Homo sapiens: one gene and its partner. The protein of the gene in region 2 interacts with the protein of the main gene of each other region in a pairwise test. Each region holds a gene or a part of one and is shown on either strand. Other genes may lie near its edges. The genes, in order: LARP4 and ZC3H7A.

What was found.
Region 1: the proteins of ZC3H7A (region 2) and LARP4 interact in a two-hybrid assay, tested with the Homo sapiens proteins (one large-scale study listed by BioGRID).

Annotation. Positions count from the first base shown.
Region 1 is NC_000012.12:50,403,730-50,407,547, reverse strand, and holds part of LARP4 (la-related protein 4), read right to left. Parts: intron 1-3,818. UniProt on the Homo sapiens protein: RNA binding protein that binds to the poly-A tract of mRNA molecules. Associates with the 40S ribosomal subunit and with polysomes. Plays a role in the regulation of mRNA translation.
Region 2 is NC_000016.10:11,776,739-11,780,556, forward strand, and holds part of ZC3H7A (zinc finger CCCH domain-containing protein 7A), read right to left. Parts: intron 2,626-3,818; coding exon 2,428-2,625; intron 172-2,427; coding exon 13-171; intron 1-12. UniProt on the Homo sapiens protein: May be a specific regulator of miRNA biogenesis. Binds to microRNAs MIR7-1, MIR16-2 and MIR29A hairpins recognizing the 3'-ATA(A/T)-5' motif in the apical loop.

The DNA of each region.
Region 1 (3,818 bases), on a different chromosome or scaffold from region 2:
CTGCAAGTAAATGTGTATTTTAACATACTGCCATCTTCATTCCTCTTTTAAAACTTTTATTTGCCCAACCAAAAGTATACTCTCCAACTATAAAAAAAACTTTAAATAATTATAAATTGTTTGACTTGCCCTAAATCAGAGTATGTTAGTAACAAGGCTGAGATGAAAACTTAGAAGTTATACTTCTCTTAAATTAGTTTAAACCTTAAAGAAAACAAAGCTTCGGCCAGACGCAGTGGCTCACGCCCGTAATCCCAGCACTTTGGGAGGCCGAGGAGGGTGGATCACAAGGTCAGGAGTTCGAGACCAGCCTGACCAATATGGTGAAACTCCGTCTCTACTAAAAATACAAAAAATAGCTAGGCGTGGTGGTACGCGCCTGTAGTCCCAGCTACTCAGGAGGCTGAGGCAGAAGAATCGCTTGAACCCAGGAGGCGGAGGTTGCAGTGAGCCGAGATCATGCCACTGTACTCCAGCCTGGGCGACAGAGCAAGATTCCATCTCAAAAAACAAACAAAAAAACTGTTAAGATGGGCTGGGCGCGGTGGCTCAAGCCTGCAATCCCAGCACTTTGGGAGGCTGAGGCAGGTAGATCTGAGGTTAGGAGTTTGAGACCAGCTTGGCCAACATGGCGAAACCTCGTCTCTACTAAAAATACAAAAATTAGCCAGCATGGTGGCGTACGTCTGTAGTCCCAGCTATACTGGGGAGGTTGAGGTGAGAGAATCACTTGAACCCAGGAGGCAGACATTGCAGTGAGCCGAGATCATGCAACTGCACTCCAGCCTGGGCAACAGAGCAAGATTCTCTCTCAAAAAAACAAAAAACTGTTAGATGATACTTTTTAAGTTATATGTATTTCACAATTAAAAATATTTTTAACTGGTGGCATGAGCCTGTAGTCCCAGCTACTCAGGAGGCTGAGGCCAGATTGCTTGAGCCCAGGAATTTGAGGCTATGGTGTGCCATGACTGTACCTGTGAATAGCCACTGTACTCCAGCCTGGACAACACAGTGAGACCCTGTCTCTTAAAAAATAATAAAATAATAATTTAAAAAAATTTTTTGAGGCAGGGTCTCACTCTGTCATCCAGGCTGGAGTGCAGTGTCATGAACATGGTTCACTGCAGCCTCGATCTCCTGGCTCAAGTGATCCTCCCACCTCAAGTGTAGCTGGGACCACAACACATGCCACCAGGCCTGGCTAATTTTTTAAATTTGTTTGTAGAGGTTGGGGGTGGGGGTGGGGGGTGTCTAACTTTGTTGCCCAGGCTGGTCTTGAACTACTGGGCTCAAGCTATCCTCCCACCTCGGCCTCCCAAAGTGTTGAGATTACAGGCATGAGACACGTTACCCAACCTAAAATATGTTTTAATTATTTAAGAGTTATTAAAGCGTCCTAGGTCGTATGAAACTTAACTGCTACCTAAGTAAGTAAGTACAGTTGGCCCTCCATATCCATGAATTCCATATCCATAGGTTCTGTATCAGTGGAGCAATCAATCACAAATCAAAAATACTCAGAAAAAAAAATCATTGCATCTGTACTGACAATGTAGAGACTTTTTTCTTATCACTCTATAAATAATACAGTATAGCAACTATTTATAAAGCATTTACATTTTAATAGGTATTATAAATAATCTAGAGATTATTTAACATATACACAAAGATGTGCATAGGTGCTACGCAAATACTATGCCTTTTTATGTAAGACTTGAGCATCCAAGGTTTTTGGCATCTACAGAGGGTCCTGGAACCAATTTCCCACAAATACTGAGGGACAACTGTCTTCATTTTCAGGGAAAAACTCAAACAGAGACAGAAACCCAATTTCAGTAGTCACTGCATACCCACCCTTCCCAGTCTCTAGTTTTAATTTTTTTTATTTAAACAAAAATTTCAGCTTGAGCAAAAAAGCAAAACCCTGTCTCTACAAAAAATACCAAAAAAGAAAAAAATTAGCCAGGCATGGTGGTACATGTCTATAGTCCCAGCTACTTTGGAGACTGAGGTGGGAGGATCACTTGAGCTGGGGAGGTGGAGGCTGCAGCAAACGAGACTGTGTCTCAAAAAATTAAAAATTAAAAAAAAAACTGTAAATAAAAGAGAGAAATGAAAAAATTTTTTTAAATTACTATCTGCCTCCTTAGGGCTCACAAGTTTTAAGTAACTTGATAGCATTCAGATGAAGGTAGTACACTGCAGTTTCAAACTTACAAACAATTTGTTGTAAAAGAATTCATGGCAGGTCATGTTTGATGACTTTGTGAATCATCCAAACTTTTACCTCTTTCCAGAGAGGGACATTGTTTGTTTCTCCTTCAGAACAGAGGTGGAAAAAAAATCTGCCAGGCGCGGTGGCTCACGCCTATAATCCCAGCACTTTAGGAGGCCAAGGCGGGCGGATCACTTGAGGTCAGCAGTTCGAGACCAGCCTGGCCAACATCGTGAAACCCGTGTCTACTAAAAATCAGGAAAAAAAAAAAAAAGGCCAGGCATGGTGGCACATGCCTGAAGTCCCAGCTACTAGGGAGGCTGAGGCAGAACTGCTTGAACCCGCCAGGTGTGGTGGCTCACGCCTGTAATTCCAACACTTTGGGAGCCCGAGGTGGGCGAATCATGAGGTCAAGAGACCGAGACCATCCTGGCCAACATGGTGAAACCCCATCTCTACTAAAAATACAAAAATTAGTTGGGCGTGGTGGCATGCGCCTACAGTCCCAGCTACTCGGGAGGCTGAGGCAGGAGAATCACTTGAACCCAGGAGGTGGAGGTTGCAGTGAGCCGAGATGGCGCCACTGCACTCCAGCCTGGGCAACAAGAGTGGAAACTCCGTCTCAAAAAAAAAAAAAAAAAAAAAAAACTGCTTGAACCCAGGAGGCGGAGGTTGCAGTGAGCTGAGACTGCGCCACCCTCTAGCCTCGGTCTCAGAGCGAGACTCGGTCTCAAGAGGAAAAAAATAAAACAAACCAATAATCTACTGAAGTCAATATAGTTGGTCTTGCTCTGTCACCCGGCCTGGAATGCAGTGGCACAATCACGGCTCATTCCAGCCTTGACCTCCCATACTCAAGCGAAACTCCTGCCTCTGCCTCCCTAGTAGCTGGGACTACAGGTACATGCCACCACATTGGGCCCAAGGCCAGGTTTTAAAAAGTTGCATCTAAGTATTATTTACATAGGATTGATTCCTTGTCTGCAATATATTCTACTCCAATACAAGTAGGTGGTTGATGAGTTCTAATACAAGCTTCCATGTTCACTAGCTGTATAAACTTAGGCAAGTTTAAATTATATGTGCCTTAGTTTCTTTTTTTTGAGACAGAGTCTCACTCTGTTGTCCAGGCTGGAGTGTAGTGGTGCCATCTCAGCTCACTGCAACCTCTGCCTCCCAGGTTCAAGCGATTCTCCTACCTTAGCCTCCCGAGTAGCTAGGATTACAGGTGTGTGCCACCACCTCTGGCTAATTTTTGTATTTTTAGTAGAGATGGGGTTTCACCATGTTGGCCAGGCTGATCTCAAACTCCTGACCTCAGGTGATTTGCCACCCACCTCAGCCTCCCAAAGTGCTGGGATTACAGGCATGAGCCACTGCGCCCAGCTGCCTTACTTATCACTAAAATGGGGATACTAACACCTCATAGAGATATTGAGACTTAAGATGTACAGATATCTATATATGCAAAAACATCAAACGTTCCTGACACAAAGCACGATACAAGTATATACTACTACTGTTGTTATTGTTATATTGCTATTATCTATCCTACTGATTCTAGTGGGATAGTTAAGCTGGAATCTCTCCAGAAAAATAC
Region 2 (3,818 bases):
TAAATTCCATACCTGAGGCACTGCTAAGGAGCACTTTGCTACAGCATCGTAAGCCTTTTTGTATCTTCCTAAATCACTTAAAGCCTTAGATTTCCGATACAGAGCTTTGCAGTTACTGGCATTTAAACTGAGGACTATATTGCAGTCCTCCAAAACTTTATCATGGAAACCCTGGTGTGTAAGACCAAAGAATAAAGTCAGCAATCAAACAATTCATTTCTTGCACTGAGGCCTTCCTGTAATAAAAACAAATTAATACCCCATCCTATTACCCTCCCTCTAAACTCCAAGTTAGCAGTATTACTTTTATTTTTTAAATTATTTTATGAAATTTCAAATACAAAAAAGTAGAAAGAATATCATGAATACCCATGTACACACCATCCAGGTCAGACAAATGCTAATATTTGGTCAGAAAGTCCCCAGATCTTCAAGAAATAAAGCTTTCCAGACCTAACTGATGTCCCCATGTGTCCCTCTCCTATTCGCTCCTCTGTAGTTACCCTTTGCTGGAGCACATTAAGATGTCAAACAGAAACGTAACTCCAAACAGCTAACTGATAAGGAATATATTACCCAAAACAAAATAAATAAACAATGAATGCTCTTTAACAAAGAGCTAGGTGACAACACGGATATTTTTCTTAAATTCATGGTTATATTTTACCGAGTATCCACAGTGAAAATTAAAAGCACTTCAGGTTGGGCACAGTGCCTCACAGCTGTAGTCCCAGCACTTTGGGAGGCCGAGGTGGGTGGATCACCTGAGGTCAGGAGTTCGAGACCAGCCTGGCCAACATGGTAAAAACCCCATCTCTACTAAAAATACAAAAATTAGCCAGGCGTGGTGGCGGGTGCCTATAATCCCAGCACTCGGGAGGCTGAAGCAGGAAAATCACTTGAACCCAGGAGACAGAGGATACAGTAAGCCGAGATTGTGCCACTGCATTACAGCCTGGGCAACAGAGTGACACTCCATCTCAAAAATTTAAAAAAGGTGGCCAGGCGTGGTGGCTCATGCCTGTAATCCCAGCACTTTGGGAGGCTGAGGCGGGCAGATCACCTGAGGTCAGGAGTTCGAGACCAGCCTGACCGACATGGAGACACCCCGTCTCTACTAAAAATACAAAATTAGCCAGGTGTGGTGGTACATGCCTGTAATCTCAGCTACTCGGGAAGCTGAGGCAGGAGAATCTCTTGAACCCGGGAGACGGAGGTTACGGTGAGCCAAGATTGTGCCATTGCACTCCAGCCTGGGCAACAAGAGTGAAACTCTTGTCTCAAAAAAAAAAAAAAAAGTTTTAAAAGGAAAAAAAGAAAAAAAAGCACTTCAAAAGCTTTTAAGCTTAAAAATGTGAAAATCTAGTGTGAATTCCTTTGAAGACTAATTACTATTTCTTGATTTAAAAAAACACTCGCCAGGCACGGTGGCTCACGCCTGTAATCCTAGCACTTTGGGAGGCTGAGGCGGGCAGATTGCCTGAATTCAGGAGATCGAGAACAGCCTGGGCAACACAGTGAAACCCCATCTCTAACAAAATACAAAAAATTTGCTGGGCACGGCGGCATGCGCCTGTAGTCCCAGCTACTCGGGAGGCCGAGGCAGGAAAATTGCTTGAACCCAGGAGGCGGAGGTTGCAGTGAGCCGAGATCGTGCCACTGCACTCCAGCCTGGGTGACAGAGCGAGACACTGTCTCAAAAAAAAAAAAAAAAAAAAAAACACTCGTAAGAGTGTTTTTTACCAAGAGTGTTTTACAAGATCAACTGGATCTTGACTAAGATGTTAACTGTGAACAGGGATACCTGAAAGACACACTGACCTGTGAAGACCTGTATCTTCCCTGGATGACTTTTTTATAAGCAGACACACCTTCAAAAGCCATACTCAAATGGGAATCATCAAGGACCAATAACTAAGAAACAAATTATTTCTTAAATCCCTAACCTTCTGTCCAAAGCTAATTTTTATTTTTTTATTTTATTTTATTTTTTGAGACGGAGTCTTGCTCTGTCGCCCAGGCTGGAGTGCAGTGGCACAATCTCGGCTCACTGCAAGCTTCGCCTCCTGGGTTCAAGCGATTCTCCTGCCTCAGCCTCCCGGGCAGCTGGGACTACATGCACACGCCACCATGCCCAGTTAATTTTTTTATTTTTAGTAGAGACGGGGTTTCACCATATTGGCCAGGCTGGTCTCAAACTCCTAACCTCATGATCCACCCACCTTGGCCTCCCAAAGTGCTGGGATTACAGGCGTGAGCCACCGTGCCCGGCCAATCCAAAGCTAATTTTTAAAAGCCTCAAGCCACTCCAAAAGCAGGTAATATGACTTTCTTAAAAACTTAAGAAATTGACTTTTTATTAATGTACTAAGTCATTGAAAAAATTCTTTTCACTCTAGAAACATCATTTTAAAAATTACAACTCACCATATTAGAATAGCAGGCAATACGATTTATATATAGTTTTTCAATTATTTCTTTGGGGATTAAAATTTCTTCAGATTTTGCATAATCAGCTATATTCAAGGCTTCCGTGTACTGGCTTATCGAGTTGTTCCAATCATGTTCCCGATAAACGTCATTTCCTTCATTAAAAAGATTTCTCACGAGAGCACGCAAATATACCTAAAAAAAAGAAAGTTACCACTTGAAGCCTTTTATCAAACAAGATATGGTATAAGTAAATTTTAATTTTTATACCTAAAACTTCACAGGAAACAATGTGACAGAACAGCAGCATTGCTCTAAGAAATTGTGAGATGCAGCCCAAGTCACTGCTATCTCAGCTAGGGATTGAATCTTGCTTGCTTTTTCAAGGGGAAATTCAATTTCTCACTATTAAGAAAAATGCAGCAAAGTACCTTATAAATATTTGTTCACATCTCCAATTCTGTGCCCGCTAGAGAAACCAAGTGGAAGCCCCAAGTCAAAGAGAATGAATAGTTTAAGGCTTTTGAGCAGTATTTCCAAATTGCCTTCCAAAAAGGCCATGATGAAAAATGTTTCTAGTGGTTTACTTTATAGCACCCATACACACTAGGTAGTGTGTGTGTGTGTACACGTGTGTGGGTACCCGTGCACATATATGTAAAATCTACCAATTTCTAGGTGGAAAATGGTATCGTTTTGTGTTTATTTATTTTTTTTAATGGTATCCTCTTTGTATGTGCATGTCTTTACCAGTGAAGTTGAACTATTCCACATTTTTACGGACCCCTTGTATTTCTTTTTCTGTAAATTGCTCAGGTCATTTACTGATTTGGGGGGAGGGGGATGTTAAACTTTTTTCTTATCAAGTAAGTATACACATTCTTTTAGCATGTATAAAAGTTTGTCATTTTCCTTCATTATTTCTATCACGCTTTAGTTTAGTTCTTTTTTTTCTTTTCTTTTTTTTTTTTGAGACAGAGTCTTACTCTGGCACCCAGGCTGGAGTGCAGTGGCACGATCTCGGCTCTCTGCGACTTCACCTCCTGAGTTCAAGTGATTCTCGTGTCTTAGCCTCCCGAGTAGCTGGGATTACAGGCACCTGCCACCACACTCGGCTAATTTTTGTATTTTTAGTAGAGACAGGGTTTCGCCATGTTGCCCAGGCTGGTCTCAAACTCCTGGTCTCAAGTGATCCGCCTGCTTCAGCCTCCGAAAATGCTGGGATTACAGGTGTGAGCCACCACGCCTGGCCATAATTTAGTATTTTAAAAGCTCTTTTTCATCACAAGATCAGAAAAATATTCAACTTGTTTTGTCTCATTTTATGAATTCCTGTCTAAGCTGATTAAATTATTTTAGCTGATTAAATTATTTTAGAAGACTGGACG